3 separate regions of the Homo sapiens genome follow, and regions 1 and 2 are each linked to region 3. Evidence: fine-mapped expression QTL. A gene starts in region 3. Each other region holds a variant in brackets. All regions are shown on one strand. Distances are from middle to middle. Region 1 overlaps CHDH (choline dehydrogenase). Region 2 has its middle 14 kb from the start of SELENOK. Region 3 holds the start of ACTR8 (actin related protein 8).

Region 1 (2,763 bases), 45 kb after region 3:
CATGACAAGCGTTTATTGAGTGCCTGCTGTGTACGTGGCTCTGGGAGCTTCTAGCTCTCCCCCACTGCTGTCTGTAAGTGAATGCACATGGCAGGAAGAGCAGCTCCATGATGGGCTCTGCCAGGTGGGAGCTTGGTAACTCCTGGCCTCTGAAGCCTGCCCATGAGGAGAGCCTTCATCTCCCCTGGAGAGGGAACAGCAGTTGTCTTTCTTTTGCTGCTATGTGACTGCATAAGAGCTGGGACACCAGCGCCTTCTATCCCCTCGGTCTGCCTCTGGCTGTGCTCCGGGTTACCCATACCCACCTCCCTACTTTCACCCGAGGCCCTCTGTGCTGCAGATGCCACTCACCCAGGCACAGTGCAGCCCAGAGTGCAGGGAGTACACATCTGGAGCACAGTGGCCAGTCTTCCTCAGGGGCCAGCCTGAGGCACTGTATCCCCCATCCCCTAGTCTATCAGGTGCTTGACTCTGGGAGGGGCCCCTAAGGGATTCGGGTCTCCCCAGCAGCGACCTCTGTTGTACCCTGCCTCCTACCCATGGCTGGGCGCCCGCAGCACCTGCACAGACTGGATCCACAGACACGCCTGCAAGGGAGAAGAAATAGTAGGTTACCCTGAGGAGCCATCCGTGGAGGTTGAGCGGCCTGGGCCCCCCACCCTTGCCTGGGTGTTAGAACTCCAGGTTTCCAATCTTACAGTCTCTTTTTTTTTTTTTTTTTTTTTTTTTTTTGAGACAGAGTCTCACTCTGTCGCCCAGGTTGGAGTGCAGTGATACGATCTTGGCTCATGGCAACCTGTGCCTCCCAGGTTCAAGCGATTCTTTTGCCTAAGCCTCGAGTAGCTGGGACTACAAGGCGTGTGCCACCACACCCGGCTAATTTTTGTATTTTTAGTAGAGATGAGGTTTTGCCATGTTGGCCAGGCTGGTCTTGAACTCCTGACCTTAGGTGATCTGCCCACCTCAGCCTCCCAAAGTGCTGGGATTACAGATGTGAGCCACCGCGCCCGGCCTCCCACCTTACATACACTCTGCTTTTGGTATAGACCACCGTGAAGGTTTTAGAAAGTGGTGAAGCAGCTAGAGAGTGGAGGGATGTGTGCAGAGGGCAGAGGCCTGGAATGTGGAGCACAAGGTTCCCAGGCTGAGGAAGCACCCACAGTGGGGCAGCAGAGGGGAGGCAGGAGGGCAGACTTACTTCAGAGGAGCCACAGGCATCGGAGGTGCCCGCAGAGGCCAGC[G/A]CCCACGCCTTACCAACAGGAAACCCTGCCCTGGGTCACACGGTGCGGCCTGGCAGAGCTCTGATGCGATGTCAGACTTCAGGGCTCCACCTCGGGTTTTGTTGGCAGCCTGTAGCCTCAGCCCAGTCCCATCTGCCCCTTTTTACCAAGAGGATCCAGAGGGCAGGTGGGCTACGCCCGAGCAGCCAGGGCACAAGGGGCCAAGTGGTATGGCCTCGTCCACACTGTCCAGAATCATCTCCCAGGTAGCAGTTTCCAATTCAGTTGTTAATTATGTATCAATATGTGGGAGATGAGATTCCTGGAAAGAGAAACTTGACACTAAAGAAAATGCCCTTTTTTTTTTTTCTTTTAGAGACAGGGTCTTGCTCTATTGCCCATGCTGGAGTACAGTGGAACAGTGCTAGCTCACTGCAGCCTTGAACTCCTGGGCTGAAGTGATTCTCCTGCCTCAGCCTTCTGAGTAGCTAGGACTATAGGTACACACCACCGTGCCTGGCTAATTAAAAAACAAGTTTTTTTTTAGAAAAAATTTCTGGGTTTTGCTATGTTGCCCAGGCTGGTCTTCAACTCCTCAACTGCATCAAGCAATCCTGCCTCAGCCCAGAAAATGCTTTCAAAAAATTGTTTTAAACATTTTAATTGAGGTGCAACAGACATACGAAGTGTCCATCATGTTGGTTTTGATCTGTGTGTATGCCTGGGTAACCATCACCAGGTCTGGATCTAGAACATTCCCAGGGGGTGCCTTCTGTTGGTCCTGGCACAGGTGTATGAGCTCAGCATCCACATCTCAGACTGCGCAGGTTGGGTTTGCTGTAGGCCACGTGCAGCCTCATCCCCTGCATGTGTCCCCTTGGCCAGCATGACGCAGCGCCAGCCTCAGGCCAAGCTCAGCACATGGTGGGAGGCAAGGGCGTGGAGCCCTCAGCCAGGGATGTGGGCTTTCCACAGCTCATCTCACTATTAGCCTGTTGAGGTCCCAGTAAGTGGCACAGAGAAGTCCCAGGATGGATGTGGTCAGTGGTGAGGAGGGCAATCCATGCCTGAGGGAAGGTGAGGAGTGAGTAGGTGAAAGGAGGTTAGCACCTGTACCTGGAGGAGAGAACAGCATGTGCAAAGGCCCTGGGGAGGAAGGGAAGGTGGACCATGCACCTGGATCCCAGGGAGCGATGCTCACAGTGGGATGATGGCTACAGAGGCCGGGGCCTGGCCTGGTCGGGCTTAGGACAAGAGGGCCTGGGGGGCCATGAGGAAGCTTGTCCCACTGTCTTAGGGAGATGGAGGCCTGGGTTGGGGGTGGCATGAGATTCCTGAGAGAGGAGGAGCAGCTGCCCAGGGTTACTCCCTGGACCACCACCGCCTCTGGGCCCAGCCAGGTCTCATTCTCAAACTGGGATCCTTCCCACCCTGGGCCACTGCACTGCACTCCCCTCAGCCCACCACAGGGCTGGGTATTCAGACGGTTGTGCTCCTGGGAGGCTCTGCTGGGCTGTAGGAAAGCAGCCAAGCCTTCTTGGCT
Region 2 (2,763 bases), 24 kb before region 3:
TAAATTACACCTTTTTTTACATTGTTTGCCTATCATTACAGATTTTATAATTATTGTTTAATGCACTTATCTTTTAAATTAGTTAAGAGGAAAAAGTTACAAAAATATACTTACACTGTGTTTTTTATTTACCTATGTAGTTACCTTTACTGATTGTAGAGGGGCAAATGGTGGCCGCCTACAAATATGTCCATGTCTCAAACCCCAAAACCTATGAAAATGTTACCTTATTTGAAAAAGAAAAAACAAAAGATCTTTGAAGATGTAAGACAGTTAAGGATTTTGAGATGAGATCATCCAGGTGGGCCCTAAATCTAACAAGTGTCCTTATAATACACACACACAGGAGAAGACAGACGCAGAGGAAAGGGTGATGTGAAGACAAGGCAGAGATTGGATTGATGTAACTATAAGCCCAGGAATTCTGGGCAAGCCATAAGAAACTGGAAGAGGCAAGGAATGGGTTCTTCCCTTGAGCCCTGGAAAAAATGTGTCCCTGCCAGATTTTGAATTTCTAGCCTCTAGAACTGTGAGAGAATAAATCTCTGTTGTTTTAAGCCACCCAGTTTGTAGTAATTTGTTACAGCAGCCCTCAGAAACTAACACACCAGTGCTTTTTATTTTTCATGTGGATTTGAGTTATTGCTTACTGTCCTCTCATTTCAGTCTGCATTAATCCCTTTAGTATTTTTTTGTAGGGCAGATTTTAAAGCAATGAATTCTCTCAGGATATGTTTATACAGGAATGTCTTATTTTCTCATTCATTTTTGAAGGATAGTTTTTCTAGATATGGAATTCTTGATTCACAATCTTTTTCTCTCAGCACTTTGAATATATCATCCCACTGCCTTCTGGCCTCCGTGATTTCTGGTGAGAAATCACGTGTTAATCTTATTTAGAATTCCTTGTGTGTGATGAGTCACTTCTCTTTTGCTGCTTTAAAGATTCAACACAGTTTGATTATCATGTATCTAGGTATGGATTTCTTTGGTTTTATTTTATTTGGAGTTATTTTAGGTCTTGGGTGCATAGACAAATATTTTTCATCAAACTTGAACTGTTTTTGGCCATTATTTCTTCAAATATTCTTTATCCCTCTTTCCCACCTCTCTTTTGAGACTCCCATTATGCATATGTTTGTATGACTGATGGTGTCCTACAGGTCTCTAAAAACTGTTCACTTTTCTTCATTCTTTTTTCTTTATGTTCCTTAGATTGGATAATCTCAATCTATCAAGTTCACTGATTGTTTCATCTGCCTGCTCAAGTTTGCTGTTGAGCCACTCTAGTGGATTTTTATTTCAGTTTCTATATTTTCAACTCTAGAATTTCTATTTGGTTCTCTCTTCTTAAACAAAATTTGATCTCTTTATTGATATTTCTATTTGTCAAAACATCAGTCAATCAGTCATACTTTCTTTCTTTTTTTTTTCTTTTTTTTCTTTTTCTTAAACAGCATCTCATTCTGTCGTCAGGCTGGAGTACGGTGGTGTGATCTCAGCTCACTGCAATCTCCACCTCCCAAATTAAAGTGATTCTCCTGCCTCAGCCTCCCAAGTAGCTGGGATTACAGGTGTGCACCACCACACCCAGCTAATTTTTGTATTTTTAGTAGAGACAGGGTTTCACCATATTGGCCCAGATGGTCTCAATCTCCTGACCTC[G/A]TGATCCACCTGCCTCAGCCTCCCAAAGTGCTGGGATTACAGACATGAGCCACCATGTCTGGCCTTTTTCATTCTTTAGACATTGCTTGCTTTGCTTCTTTGCTTTGCTTTGCTTCTTTGCCCATAAATCTTTTTTTTCTTTTTTTTTTTTTTTTTTGAGGCAGAGTCTCAATCTGTTATCCAGGCTGGAGTGCAGTGGTACAATCACAGCTCACTGCAGCCTTGACCTCCCAGGCTCAAGTGATCCTCCCACCTTAGCCTCTTGAATAACTGGGACCACAGGCACATACCACCACATCCAGCTAATTAAAACAAATTTTTTTTTGTAGAGATGGGATCTCACTATATTGCTTAGGCTGGTCTCAAACTGGAACTCCAGGGCCCAAGTTATCCTCCTGCCTTGGCCTTCCACATTTCTGGGATTACAGGCATGAGCCACCATGCCCAGTCTTAAAATCTTTATCTACTAAGTCCAACATCCAGGCTTCCTTGGGAACAGTTTCTATTGGAGTTATTTTTATTTTCCTCTCTATGGTCCATGTATTCTTCTTTGCATATCTCATAACTTTTTATTGAAAAATTGACATTTTAAATAATATAATGTGGCAATTCTGAAAATGAGATTCTTCTTCCTTCTCCAAGTTGTTTAGTGACTTTTTAAAACCAATGCTGTAAAGGCTGTATTCTTTGTCATATATAGCTACTGATGTCTCTGCTCAGTTAGCTTAGTAGTCAGCTAATGACTAGACAGAGATTTAAAGCTCTGGAACCAATAAGTCTGCCACTTTTTGCAGAAGGGATCTGGGTGTGTGTTGGGGCATGCCTTCAACATTCAATTGGGTAATTGGCAATTCTGCCTTATCCTTCACTTCCTGCTTGTTCCATCTCAAAACTGGCCAGATGTGAGAGCTTGGGACCTACTCAGTTTGCTTATTATTTTTTTAATCTCACCATCTAGAAGTAATATCAAGTTTTTCTTCAGCATGTACACAGCCCTATTCATGCAGGTGGCCTTGTAGATTCCTAAGAATATGTCAGGGCTTTTCAAAGGCCCTGTGGATATCTCATTGCCCAGTTTTCCTTTTAAGCTTTCTGTTT
Region 3 (2,730 bases):
TTTTATCCCACTTCACTCACCTGTAAAACGGGGATTAAATTTTTACCTCCAAGAGTTCTTTATTTAGTATTTAGTCATCACATGCTTATTGGGCACCTACCATGTGCTGAAGATAACTGGCAAAGTCTCACGGAGCTTACATTCTAGTGTGGGAGACAGTGAGCAGGCATGATAATTACAGACTAATGCTTCATGCTTCAAAGGGAATAGGATGATGAGAGAATAACTGCGGAAGGCCTGAGGTGACATTTGAGTTCAGACGTGAGAATGAGACAGCTGAGGGAAGAGCATCCAAGGCAAAATGAACAGCAAGTGCAACAGCCCGATGACGGGAAGGGCTTGGCATGTCTGAGAAAGATAAAACAGGTGTAGCTGGAAATGCCAAGGAATGGGGAGAGTGTTGTGAGGTGAACTTAGAAATGTAGCAATAACTAGATATGGTCTTTAGGTGGTGGTTAGTTTAGATTCTGTTCTTTGAGCAAAGGGAAACCATTAGAGTTTAAAGCATGAGTGACATCTAATTTTTGAGGTAAGTCTTAGTGGAGTGCTGGGTACATAGTAGTATTAACTACGTAATATTTTAAAACAACGTGGGCAACTATATAAGAACAGATCATAGGGGGACAGGACAAGGAGTTCGAGTTAAGAGGCTGTTGTAGTCATCCAGGTGAGATGATAGTGGCTTGGGCTAGGTAGTGGCATGGGAATGGAGAAGTGGATGAATTCAAGATCTATTTTAGAGACTGCAGGATTTACTGATGGATTGGATGTAGAAGCTGTCAACAAGTGAAGAATCAAAATGACATTTACTGAGATGGTGAAAGTGAGAGGGGAGGGAATCAAGAGTTAAATTTTGGACATATTTAAGTTTGCAGTGCCTTGTAGACAATCCAGATGGAGAGACCAAGTAGGCACTGGTTATCAGTACGGATCTCTCTGAGCGGTTCATCCTGGATATATATATTTGGGAATCGTATTCATTGCTAAAGCCAGGAAACTGGATAGTCACCCAAGGAGTGTGCCTGGAAAAGACCTAACCCCAACATCAGAGGCTGGACTGAACATGAAGACATATGAGAAAAACTAAGAGTACATATGGTATCTGGGAAGCCAGGAGAAGAGATGCCTGTGAGGACGAAATAAGATGCGGGTTATCAGCCGACCCCCACTAGGCGCTCGAAAAGCTATGTGTACTATGTTGCTGGCATCTACACAGTCAGGACTAATCACAGCAACACCCACCCAATCAATCCGCATGCACACCCCGCCCCCAGCCCCTGCGCCGGGCAGCCCCACCCCCGCCTTTTCGGAGCCCTCTGGGGCGACTCCGCGGCGGCCATCTTGACTGTGGGCAGCCGGCCGTGCGCCTGCGCGGTGGCCCTTCCATCCCGGCAGTCGTGGCTGCAGCGCTGAGGCGAGAGGTTGGTGGGTGTCTCCGGCCATAATGACCCAGGCTGAGAAGGGTGATACGGAGAACGGAAAGGAGAAGGGCGGCGAGAAGGAGAAGGAGCAGCGCGGCGTGAAGCGGCCCATCGTGCCCGCGCTGGTGCCGGAGTCGCTGCAAGAGGTGCGGCTCTGGCTGGGTTGGAACTCTTTGCCCTTGCTTGGGTCCTCCGCTGCCAGGCAAGGGGCGGGAGGCGGCGGGAGGCTTCGAGTCCCCCTTGCAGGCCCCAGCCCCTGGTGGGGGGAGTGCGGAAGCGGTCGTTCTTTTCCGGGTGGTGGCGCGCCGGGACGCCGAGGGCTGGGAGGTGCGGAGCGCCAGGAGCCAGGCGGAGCCCCCGCAGGGACACCGCTCCGATCTCCCGCACGCCCCACCGTCTGGTTGTGTGCGCTCCTGCCCGGGCTCTGGCCTCAGCTTCCCCGACCATAAAACGACCACGGTGATAACCAGCCGCCTCGCAAGTTGCCGTGAGGGTTAAATGGTGGCAGATAGAGTTTAGGACCAGGCTGGCTCACTGGGAGCGTCAGCCTGTGCTTGTTAAGGGATAGTTTGGGGTCCAGGCTTTTTCCTTTGTTAAGGAAATCTCAGATAATGGAAGTCATTTCAAGCTTAAAAGCAAGGAAATGGTGGACATTTGTCTAAATATATATTAAGAGCTTGTGTATCAAAAACAACACTATTAGACCAAACTAAACTAACCAGAAAAAATTATTTGCAGTAGCGTGCCTGGCAGAGGACCTTAGATGTATACACATACACAAAACCTTACTGATCAGTAACTAAAACAGCATTCACGTAGGAAAACGGGCACAGGCAGTGTACAATTCACAGAAGAAATGAGGCATAAACTGCTCAGAAATTCATGTAGGACATCTCTGATCCAGCTTCCTTACCGGTAGATGGGTTAAGGATAATACCTAACTAGTAGGGCAGCTACTAGTTAGTTATCACTAGTATGACAGTGCCTGGCACACCGTAAGCCCAGAGTGGCCATTACTGTTGCACAGGCCTGGTTTCTCCATCTGTCTAGTTGAGAAGGCTGACTGGATGGTCTGTAAGGGCCTTGCCAGATCCTTCCCTCTAGGATTCTCCCACTCTGTGGGGGGTGATTAGGAGGAGAGAGGTCACACTTGGAGATAGGACAACAGGTATCAGAGCATGGCATGGAATGGGCTTGTGCAGAGGGCAGTATTGGGCACTCAAGCAAGTACCTCCTCCATCCCCGACAGTCAGGGAGGGTTTCTTCAAAGGAGGTGAGGTGACATCTGTTTAGAGTCCTGAAGGTGATT

What was found. PIP is the estimated chance that this variant, and not a neighbour inherited with it, causes the effect.
Region 1: its variant is fine-mapped to the expression of ACTR8 in CD4 T cells (BLUEPRINT, PIP 0.95).
Region 2: its variant is fine-mapped to the expression of ACTR8 in monocytes after Pam3CSK4 (Quach 2016, PIP 0.95).

Annotation. Positions count from the first base shown.
Region 1 is chr3:53,836,026-53,838,788 of GRCh38, reverse strand. All of the region lies in intron 2 of CHDH (choline dehydrogenase), which reads left to right. Among named protein-coding and RNA genes, the nearest start is that of CHDH, 9.0 kb to the left of the region's middle. The variant G/A (reference allele first, on the strand shown) is at 1,242.
Region 2 is chr3:53,904,732-53,907,494 of GRCh38, reverse strand. No RefSeq gene overlaps it. Among named protein-coding and RNA genes, the nearest start is that of SELENOK, 14 kb to the right of the region's middle. The variant G/A (reference allele first, on the strand shown) is at 1,666.
Region 3 is chr3:53,880,816-53,883,545 of GRCh38, reverse strand. It overlaps ACTR8 (actin related protein 8), which reads left to right and starts at 1,394. Exons shown (of 13, transcript NM_022899.5): 1 at 1,394-1,567. The coding sequence starts at 1,445. RefSeq lists silencers at 1,178-1,267, 1,658-1,767 and an enhancer at 1,428-1,507.